Linked DNA regions of Homo sapiens: region 1 is linked to region 2. The links come from fine-mapping of genetic effects on gene expression. Tissue or cell type: whole blood. Region 2 holds a variant in brackets; the other region holds the start of a gene. All regions are shown on one strand. Distances are between the middles of the regions.

Region 1 (5,757 bases), 53 kb before region 2:
ATTTTGGTCAAGGAGCAAACTGAAGTTCAGACACCAAGATGGCAGAGTTAGAATGCATACTCAGGTCCGTTAGCTTGTGATCTTTCCATGAAATCACTTAGCCAAAAAGACAAACCCAAAAACAAAATCTGGTAGGATTAATGTAAGTAAGGAAGCTTCTCTTTAATTTCTTTTGGTTTAGATGTGATCTTATATCTGTAGGGGGGAAAAGGTGAACAATATCTATTGCAAAAAGAAAGATGTTTGTAATTCTACAAGTTTGTTGACTAGGACAAGTGGAAATAGATGAAAATGGAAAATGTGTATTAAACAGTATATAAATAGAAGGTAATAATTTTTCTGAGTCCTATTGATTTTTGAAGGTAATTTTAATATTAGTATCAAAGTCTTCTAATCTCTAAAATATACTACTATTCTTCTATTTAGCTAGAGATATTGTAAAGCTATTGAAGACTCTTATAAGATTCTTAGGAAAGCTGCTATAAAACACAGACTTTATTATTTCTGACCTCATGTGTTCCTACTTTGTTCTTACCCCAATTACTGCATCCCTCATATTGCATCCTAATCATTACTCTGAGCTCTCTACCAGCAGTTGGGTTTCCTCAAGGCAGGGACCAGGTCTCTTTCACTGTGGTGTCCATCATAACCAGAACAGTGTCTGAAATATAATAAGTACTCAGTAAATGTTTATGGAATAAATCAGCAAACACTAACAAAAGGATTCATCTTTCTGATCCGTTTCTCTATTTCCAAAATGAGAAGATAGTAGTAATATTTTCCTAGATTGCTTATCAGGAATGTATGATAACTGTTCATACACTCTTTATTGGAGATATGTGCCACAGACATAAATGGCTATTACCATGATTAGTAAGGGGGTAATTATTACAATTTTTATTCTGGTTGAAATCTAACCAATTAAAAAATCTAACCAATACACGATCACACTGGTCTTTAAATTAAAAAAAAAAAAGAAAAATATCTAACCAATAAATTTTCGGAAAGAAATGTAGGCTATTTGAGGTAATAGGTAGTAGGAGTGTCTATCCTTGGGCGCTCATGGTAGAAAGAAAAGCAGAACCCCACCGCGGAAATGAGAATAATCCCTCACTAGGTGGCTCTCTTTGCCGTGAGTGGGCGGCGCGTCGGGGCGGGGCGGGTGATTGGGGGCATTGTACTGCCGCAAGCGCTGCGTGTCACGCCGCACCATACCAGGCGCTGGCAGCATGAGGGGCATAGTCCACTTTCTATTTCGTTAATGACAATCTGTCCTTGGAATTTATTTCAAAGCAGGTTGTACTTTCGTTTCCGCTAAACTTATACCTGATGTTTCAACTGAACATTGGTATAGTCTTATTGGTGCAGGTCTCAGAGAAGGATCTTGAAAGTGCCTCTTCACCTGGCGTAGAAAAAGACAGCAGGAATCAGGTAGCCAAACCAGACCAAACCAAATCAAAATAGCCCATTAAAATCCTTATTTTAACTATCCTATGAGGGCTGCATTCTTGGAAGGTTTTATATAGTTACATATCCTAAAGTACTTTGGGATAGCTCCTTAAGTGACTCCACAATACGAACCGAAAATATAACTTGTAAAACGTCAATTTCTTCAAGTCATGGATGATGAATTTTCCAGCTATTTCTCATACACTTCATATTATTATTGACTTCGTTCTTTATTTCAGCTTTTTGGCCCGAAACCTGACACAAAACACACATAATAAATATCCAAAAAGATTTGTTCTAAGAATGAAACTTCTTTTCCTAGACTCCTTTCACCAGACAGATGTATCTAGGGTTCGTTCTTCTTGATCCTCTTTTATCCGATGTTTTCCTCTCTAACTCAACGACACAGAATGACGACTTTTAAAACACTGCAGACCCGTGAGAAGAGAAAGGTTGCAGAGCAGGGAGGAACTTGGAGGTCTGCCTTTAATAATCAAGCAGGATCCCCACTGCGGGGTGCCTATCAGAGTGATGGCGCTAGTCAGCCTTCCGGCTTGTCCCCGGCTTAAATGATAGAAAACCACGTGTTAGCCTTCTAGGATGTGTTCCCACCCTCACCCTGGCCTCCTCGCGGCAGGCTCGCGACAGCTAGGTCAGGAGGGAGTACGCGGGTGGGGTGGATTTGGGGGAGGGGTCGACTCGCCAGAAGTCGGCTATCCCCGTCGGCAGGGAAGGCATCGCGGCTGTCGTGTGCCGCTCTCCTCCCTCAGGGACCCCGTCCAGGCGGGATCCCGCCTCCCAGAGCCCAAGGCAGTTGTGGGGAAACCCCTTGCCCTTCCTCGCCGCTTGGCGCTGTCGCCTCGCCCTCCCGACTCCAGCCCGCCGCCCGCCAGCCTCCAGGCCATGCATCCTCTTCGCAGGCCCAGCCCTCTCCACGCCCGGCTCTGAGAGGAAACTACGGAGGTGGTTCCCGCTCGCAGGCGGGTGGAAAAGCCCATGGTGAATGCCTCGGGGTGTCCCCCCAGTTGCTGTGGGAAGTGGGAAGGGAGGAGGAAGTGGACTTCACCACCGGGGAGAACTATATCGATTCCTAACTTGGGGGAGGCCTTTAGATGGAAGGGAAGCCAACGGGGAACCCTGGGTGGTTTCCTGGGAATCCATTGGCCAAGGGGAGGGTGACCCTGTCCGCACACATCGGTTACTATGACAATATAACCACAGCCTCCAGTTGCCATGGCAGCTGCCTATCCAATCCGATTGTCTTCTCTTCCTCTCCGGGCCCCACCTTATCCCCTCCAAGAGTCTCCCAGCGTGCATGGGGAGGGGCTGCAGCGAAGAGGAGAGGGGGTCCTTCGAGTCACTCTCTACGCGCGAGGGAAGACAGGCGTTGAGGGACTGCTGGGAGGAACTGTAGGAGGAAGGGGCGGCGTTTCCGGTGGGGAAGAGTGGAGGCGTGCAAAAAGGAAGAGGGAAATCGGCAGGAGTGATAAGAAGGGGGAAGACTTTGAGTGTAACTCCCGTTCTTTTGGCCTGGGTGTTCCCGGTGGTGGGATTGGGATTGCCCCCTTGCGCGGGAGGAGAAGGGTGGATTGGCAGGAAGCCGCCAAGCGCCACCAGCCGGTCTCTCAGAAGCCGCACAGGCGCCACACAGCTCGTTGATCCCAAAAGGGAGCGCTACAGAGAGGCGGAAATCACTGAGGGACAGGCGCTGCTGAAATCTCGCGAGAGGGACCCCCTCCCTCGCCCGGTCGCCGACTTCCTCTGCTTCTCCTCTTTCCCCCGCCCCTCCTCCCTCCCCCTCCCCCCCGGGTCGGAGTGTCCCTGCGCCCCACGGGCCAGAGCAGCAGCGAGAGCAGCTTTCCCCACTCCCTCCCCCTCGCCTCATTCACCCCCACCCCCCTGCCGAGCGAGGAGGAGCCGGAGGAGAGGAAGATGGCGGCGGCCGCCAGCACCCGCGGTGCCGCGGGGCCGCTCCGAGGAGCCTGAGAGACCCACGGAGGCTTCGCGGGAAGACGCGGCGGCGGCGGCGGAGGATGAGCCTGCAGAGCGCGCAGTACCTCCGGTGAGTGCCGAGGCCGGGCTGGTACGTAGGGGGAGCGGGCCGCAGGTTGGGGCATGGAGCAACAGACACCGAGGTAAGTCCGGGGTGGCGGGGGAGTTGCTGCGTCCTCTCCTCGCCGGGCAGGTCGGCGGAGACTGCAAGGGGATCTGCGGGAGGGGGCGGAACGGGTATGGGTGCCTAGCCCCTACCGCCCGGGCTGAGCTCTGGCGAAGCCGGCTCGTCCCGGTGCGAGGAGGGAGGTTGGGGAAGCGTGAGAATGTGCGCGCGCGCCCTTGGTCTCGGGTTTGCTAGCGAGGGGTGGAGAGAAACGTCCGGGGAGGCGGCGGCGACCCCGAGTGGAGGTGGGTGTGGAGGAGTCTGATCCCCGTGGCAGGGGACTCGTGGTGTGGCGTGGGATTGGTTGGAGCGATGCATGAGTAGAGGACGGGGAGGAAGTCTGCACACCTGGGGTGTTGGGGCGGGGGAACCGCGGAGGGCAGACAGGGGGAGAGGGAGACCGCAGGAAACTGGAGCTTGTTCTTCATTCTCGGGTTGGGAGTATTGAGGAATAATGTCATCTGTAGTTAGTTGGCGGTGTGGGGAGGCGTGAAGGGGAATAGATGGGGAAGTGAGGAAAGAGGGAGGCACTGTGGACAAGGTTGGGTTTTTCAGAAGAAACTGGGTTAGAATCAGTGTAGTCGGAAGATACCATTCTGAGAGTCGTGTGTATTCATTAAGAGTGGTGTAAGGAACTTGTATGTCAGAGGTAGAGTGACACATGGGAATAGTGTGTGTGTGTGCGAGATGTGTGTCTGGGGTGGGGGGCGCGGCGATTGATGCACATTTCAGGATGAAGATGTAGATAGGTTGAACTTAGTACCTGATGGCGAGAACATATTGAATGGAAGGACACCAGCTTTTGTGTCAGCTGAAAGGTTCCATGGAAGCTGAGTAAGAGCTTGGAGGCAGAGGTAAAGTGGGTCAAAAATCTTGATAGAGAAAAGTAAGGTTGTTAGATCCTGAAATTAACTGGGGAGTGACTACTGCTTAGAAAAGGGGAAGACTTTAAAATTGGTCCTTTTTGTCTTTCAGGAGCAGAACTAAGAAAGGGAGGCCTTATGGAAAGATGTTTTTTAAAAAATTGTTTCATACCTTGCGGAGGAGGGAGTTGGATGAGGTGGAAGTCTGAAATGAGTGGAAAAGTCACTTTAGCTGTTTAGTGACATGAAAGTATTGACGTGTGTGGATCCCTATATGTATATTGCAAGAGGTGTGTAGTTACCTGATACATAGGGTGGCCATTATAATTTTTAAAGTAGTAAAGTTTTATTAAGCATAATAGGGAGAGAAGAGAATGATGAGATATTTGAACAATGCTTGAATGCTTGATTTTAACACAACATATATGCCCAGTGACCACAGGACAGTTGGAATGATGTCTGTAATTTGAGGTCCTTTTTTTCATCTTAGATATCCCTTTGTTGTTTAATATTTCAAATAAATATAGCTATGACAAAGATCTGTTGTAGGTGCTATAGAGAGATGGAAACCATCAGGGTGCTGATTAGTCTTAAGGAATTTGCAGTTGAGTATCTGTTAGGCAAGTAAATTAAACAGCACAGAGTGTAAGTACCATGAAAGATACCAAACGTTGCCGGGCACGGGGGCTCACGCCTGTAATCCCAGCACTTTGGGAGGCCTAGGCGGGAGGATCACCTGAGGTCAGGAGTTCAAGACCAGCCTGGCCAGCATGGTGAAACCACGTCTCTACTAAAAATACAAAAAATTAGCTGGGCATGGTGGTGGGCGCCTGTAATGCCGGCTACTCGGGAGGCTGAGGCAGGAGAATCGCTTGAACCCGGGAGGCAGAGGTTGCAGTGAGCCGAGATGGCGTCATTGCACTCCAGCCTGGGCAACAAGAGTGAAACTTCGTCTCAATAAATAAGTAAATACATAAATAAAAATAAAAGATACGAAGTGTTTTGAGTCCAAAGGCAGGAGATCACCTGAGCAATGGGAGGAAATCAGGAAAGACTTTGTTTATTTGCTCATTCATGTACTCATGATTCATTAGTTGTTTTGTTGATCACCTGTATGGGAGGCATTGTACCAACATCTGAGAATAGAAAAAGAACAACTCCACCCTCCTTTTACAGAGCTTACACTTTGTTAGACTTCAAGAAAATGGCACTTAGGATATTGTTCATCCTTAATGTTCATTTTGACAGATGTGGATTGAGAAGCGGGGAATTCCAAATGGAAGGAAA
Region 2 (5,757 bases):
TAGATGGATTGGATTGAATTTCTGGAATCAGAGTAAAGGAGGAGTCAAAGCAAATACAATTATCAGTGTGAGCAGCTAGTCGAGTGGTTGTACCATTTACTGAGATGGGAAACACTAGGGGGAAAGTAGCTTTTTCCCTATTAAAGTAGATGCCTGTTTGACATCTAAGTAGAGATTTGAAATAAGCAATTGAATAAACAAGGTTGGAGCCCAGTGGAAACATCATAAAATCATAAAAATTTTATGATTATAGTAAAGAACCCTGACTTAGTCAGATGGTAACAGATTTAGCACAGGAGGAGCCACCATTGCAATCAAGAAAATGAGAGAGAGAAGGTGCCTTGGAAGCCAAGAGAAAAACATCTGAATAAGGAAGGGAGTCATCAGCCCTGTTGAGTGCTGCTGAGAATTAAAGTAAGATTTAAAGTGACCAATTAGGTTTGACAACATGAAAGTCATTGGTGAACTTAATGAATACCATATTTCTTCATTTCTGAAACTTTTTTTTTCATATTTTAACATATCTGAAATAGAGATAAGTTTATAACAGATGACAAGTGACCATATAACTTGTGGTTTTTTCTCAATATTATATAAGATGATGGTTCATCTTATAATTTATGGTGTCTTTGTATTGATGAAATGTAACTTCAGCAGTGTTGGGGATAGAAACCTGATTAGAGTGGATTGAGAAGAGACTAGTACTTGGTTATCCACAGTAACATTTTCTGTGAAGATAGTTTTTTAGTTTTTTGTTTTTTTTTTTTAAAGACAGGCGCTCACTCTATCATTTTGGCTGAGTACGGTGCTTAATCATAGCTCACTGAAGCCTCAGACTCCTTGGCTCAAGTGATCCTTCCCCACCTCAGCCTCCCAAATACCTAGGACTACAGGCTCATACCAGCTACCTTTTTTTATTTTTTGTAGAATGGAGTCTCACTATGTTACCCAGGCTGGTTTAGTTTTAACTTCTTAGCTACCATTTTGTTAACCAGTTAAAGCATGGGGCTTAAAGCAGAACCAAATTCCTGGTCAAAGTAAAGACATACCATTCTGCTGTAGGTTGTTTTTAAACATCAAAGAACAGAACGGTAGCCTTTATTCTAAGAAAATAGGAACCAAAAAGAAAGTATAATCACTGAGTTTCTGTATTAGTTTAAAAGGTAATATTCTATACCTTCATAATCAATCTTTCATTCTTGGCATGGAATAAAGAGCTGAGGAGACAAGAGATAGTGTAAAAATTGATAAATAGGAACCCAGAAACTGTTCTAGTACTGCTCTAGGGCTAATTGTGACTATTTGGACAAGTCACTACCTCTGTGGTGCTTAGCTTTCTGATTGTAAAAAAGAGAGTTGACAAATGCTTATAGGTTCATTTTCCAGTTTTATAGTTCCATGATTATAATTTGGGAAGAACTAGAGGCATTAATATTCAGCTACAGCCTTAGGAATATCTCCCAGTCAATACTTCTGTATAATGAAGTAACTAAGTTCTTATCAGACTGAGGAAACTACTACAAAGTAATGTACATCAGGGTCAACCTATATGAAGGTAGGACATTGTTTTGTTCAATTTATGAAACATCCTTTTCTCTTCTTTAGTTCCATCTTGTTACTGCCTCTAAACCAACTAGAGCTCTCTTTCTCAGAATCTTTGAGCCAGTAGGAGCTTTTCTGTCTGATATCACCACTTAAACTCTTGGGCTCAGGCAGAAATTTTATTACAAGACATTCTACATGATGTTCCAACCATAATTTTATTTATTTTTTGTGATCTTTCTTTTTTGTTTTTGCTAGATGTGCAGCCTTGCCTAGTTTTCCAGTCTGTTTTTTCATTACCTATTGAAGTCAGTTCTTTAACCCTCTCATGTTTCTTAGTTATCCACTTTTGTTTTTTGTTTTTTTCATAATATATATGTAGGTATATATATATTTACATATATATATTTTTTTTGTTCCTGCCCTGTGCCTTGTGCTTTTTCTATTTCTTAACCCATCCCGTTCAGGACATTAACTTATTTACCCTGTTTTTTTATGTATTCATTTTATTTTATTTTATTTATTCATTTTTTAAGACGGGGTCTCTCTCTGTCACCCAGGCTGGAGTGCAGTGTATATCATAGCTCACTGCGGCCTGGAACTCTGGGGCTTAAGTGAGCCTCCCGCCTCACCCTTCCAAAGTACGGGGACTATAGCACTGCATGCCACCACACGTGGCTAATTTTTTGTTTCACTTTATTTTCATTTTTATATTCATTCATTTGTTTATTTTGTAGAGACAGATTCTTGCTTTGCTGTCCAGGCTGGTCTTGAACTCCTGACCTCAAGTGATCCTTCCGCCTTGACCTCCCAAAGTGTTGGGATTACAGGCATGAGCTACCATGCCTGGCCTTGTTTACCCAATTTTATGTTAGTGAATTTCTTGCCCATTACAAATGTACAAGTAAAGATGGAGTAAATAATTTCCATGCCCAGTGAGAAAGGGTGCGCAGAATTTATATTTAGTTATGGAGGTGATTTTTATCTTAGGAAAAAGGTGGCATGATTCAGATCCTTCTGAGTTGAGCCCTTAGGGTGTCTTATTTTGTATTTTGAATTCTGTACATGCTAGAAAGAGTGGTGATAGAATCAAAATATTTCTAATTCTATAACCTTAGTCCAGTCGCTTGATTATTTCTGCCTTCACATCCTCATCTGAAAAAAATTGAGCTTTATATCTATGTATACTGTGTTGCTACTAGTTTATCACAAGGATAAAGTGAGACAAATTTATCAGATAACCTAGGGAAATAAGTTACGTTATAAATGTAGAATATTCTGTTGGTTATATTGTGTGTCATGTTGTCTGTCCTTCTCTCCTTTCCCTTTTCCCTCTCCCTCCCTCTCTCCCCTCTACTTCTCTTTTTGTACCTGACTTGCCCATTTAGCTACAAGCTCATGAAGGAAACATATTTTCTTACTTGTCTTTGTATCTTTCTTGTTTACTGGGTGTCTGATATACTAGCACATACTTGGATGAATATAATAATATTTGAATGACGATATTTGTAAGTAAATATTTGAATAACTGTGAAGTAAATATTCTTCACAGTGTGAAGAACTGTGTGCGGGGCAAGAAATAAGCCCTTGGCAAGCAAAGTGAGAGGAGAAAAGCCTTTCTATGAAGGAGACTGAAAAGGAGTGATTGGAGAGATGACAGAGAACTAGAACAGCTCAGTAATCAACCATAAGATCAGATGTTTTAAGTGCAGCAAAGAGGTCCAATAAGATGATGTCTGAAAAATATCC[G/A]TTGTATTTGGCTATTAGGTAACCAATTGTCTGATAGTAGTTTCAGTAGAGTGGTAATGGATGGTTGGGTGAGAGGAGGGAGAGGGGTTGTGTGGAAGCCAGATGATAATGGATTAAGGAGTAAATAGAAATTGAGAAAGCAGATATGAAAAGTGTGGACTCCTTTGAAGGCATTTGGTTGAGAAGAAGGAGAGACATTAAAAGGTTGCTATAAAGTCAAGAGGAGAGTGTTTTAGCTCTGTTTTGTTTTTTGTTCTTGTTTTTTTCTGTGGGAGACGTGGTGTGTAGGCCATAGGAAAGAAGCATGAAAAGTTGACAGTAGATGAAAGAATGGAGAGGTGGGAGACAGACAGGAACCAGAAAAGAATGTAGCAATAGGCACACATAGGCAGAAGAGTTAGCTCTGACTAGGAAGAAGAGCCCCTCATACTTTAAGAACAGAGAAGAGAGGAGGTAGGAATGGGTGATACAGTAAAGGTGTACACTACGGTGAGATTCGTTGTATATGCAAAGACATGTGAATTGGCATACAGCTTAAGAAAATAAATTGCAAGAAATACCTAAAGTCTGACAAATACCTTGGCTTACATTTAAGTCAAATTTGTAACCAATATTTAATAATTTTTGGGTTTCTGAGAGTAGTAGCTTTCTTTGCTTGCTTAATGTGTCTGAAAATCGTGTCTGAAAATCCTATCCAGTTAAATAATCTTTTTTTAAAATGCTGCTGTATGCACATCCTAGATTGCTGTAATACTTGAGAATTCAAAAGGTATGATTTATAATGAATGATACTAGTTATCCTGTGAAAGATTAACGTATAATATATATATATATATATATTTTTTTTTTTGGAGACAGTCTTGCTCTCTCACCCAGGCTGGAGTGCAGTGGCGTGATCTCGGCTCACTGCAACCTCCGCCTCCTGGGTTCAAGCGATTCTTGTGCCTCAGCCTCCCTTGTAGCTGAGACTACAGGTGCTCACCACCACTCCCGGCTGATTTTTTTTTTGTATTTTTAGTAGAGACGGGGTTTCATCATGTTGGCCAGGCTGGTCTCAAACTCCTGAGCTCAAGTGATCCGCCCGCCTTGGCCTCCTAAAGTGCTGGGATTATAGGCGTGAGCCCCTGTGCCAGGCCCGAAAGATTACCATATAATTTTCATGCAGTTTTTGTTCAGATTTCAGCAGTATGTGGTACTAGGTACACATCTTACAGTTTATAAACTTTACTTTTAGAGCACTTGTGACTTACTACTAAATTTTGTTTGTTTTTCTTTTAGTTATTACAAGAACTGTGTACAGTATTTAATGTAGATTTACCATGCCGTGTGAAGTCTTCCCAATTGGGAATTATCAGCAATAAACAGACGCATACCAGCGCCATAGTGAAGCCACAGTCTAGCTCCTGTTCCTATATCTGCCAGCACTGCCTCGTCCACCTTGGAGACATTGGTGAGCCTTTGCTGTGAAGGAATTGATAATATGTTCCTCCTTTTCTTTGGAATAGTCATAGAAAGAAACTGTTTTCCTTTAAGCGGAGCATACACACACAATTTAGATTGTCATAAGAAGAAACTATAAAATGTATTCTAAGGAACTTAAAATTTCTCAATATTTTTGGGATTGGCAGAGCATCGTGAAGAAAGTAACTTTCATATTAAGATTTAAATTTTATTCCAACTTTATGTAATTTATATAGGCAAATAATAAACAGCAAAAACATAATCAAAGCTTAATTTTTCAAAGTGGTGCCATAATTTCTAAATTAAATGTACTCTTCTGGAATAAATGAGGTTTATAAATTACTCCTGAAGCGAAATTGCCTTCTTTCTTTCTTACCAATGGACTAAAAGTTGATTTTTAATTTTGCTTCCTTTTTAAAGTTTAATTTGTATTTCTATTATTTGCATTTTATCTGGGAATATTATATAACTTATTTATTCTTGTTCATTCCTTTAAGGTGACCTAGAAAGGTTGTAAAACAAATTAACTATAGGATTATGTTTTGCTTGTCCTCAAATAACAAAGAATGGAGAACATTACTGCTTTTAAGTTTGAAATTTTAGATTTCTTAATATTGTAAGTCAGCGGTTCCATGAGGAGGTCACATCAGAGTAAGCAGTGAGTTTGGCAGGGAGATTCATTGATACTGTGTTTAGGTTGTTTTGCTTTAAATATAATCTTTGCACACACATATTTAATATTGCAATAGGAATGAGACATTTTTCAAAATCACTTTATAAAATATTGAAAAATACATAATTTTCAGATCATATTGTATAGTGTATTTTGTTTTGTTTTGTTTTTAAGTGCCATATAACTCACCCCTTCTTGTGGGCCGGCTCCAGGTCACCAGCATAGTCCATAGTGGGAGCTGGTGATGCATGACACTGGAGGACCTGAAAATGGGGTCTAGGTAAGCTTTAAAATTGGTTACATGCTGAATGTCCCAAATAAGGAAGGCTGAT

Evidence for each region. PIP is the estimated chance that this variant, and not a neighbour inherited with it, causes the effect.
Region 1: it holds the start of SMG7, and the variant in region 2 is fine-mapped to the expression of SMG7 in whole blood (INTERVAL, PIP above 0.99).

What each region holds. Positions count from the first base shown.
Region 1 is chr1:183,469,139-183,474,895 of GRCh38, forward strand. SMG7 (SMG7 nonsense mediated mRNA decay factor) reads left to right here and starts at 3,361. Exons shown (of 23, transcript NM_001375584.1): 1 at 3,361-3,511. The coding sequence starts at 3,483. It overlaps SMG7-AS1 (SMG7 antisense RNA 1), which reads right to left and starts at 2,844. Exons shown (of 5, transcript NR_040063.1): 1 at 1,582-2,844; 2 at 1,327-1,402; 3 at 536-661. RefSeq lists silencers at 1,037-1,226, 3,199-3,348 and an enhancer at 2,412-3,043.
Region 2 is chr1:183,522,027-183,527,783 of GRCh38, forward strand. It overlaps SMG7 (SMG7 nonsense mediated mRNA decay factor), which reads left to right. Exons shown (of 23, transcript NM_001375584.1): 5 at 4,570-4,741. Among named protein-coding and RNA genes, the nearest start is that of SMG7, 52 kb to the left of the region's middle. The variant G/A (reference allele first, on the strand shown) is at 3,292.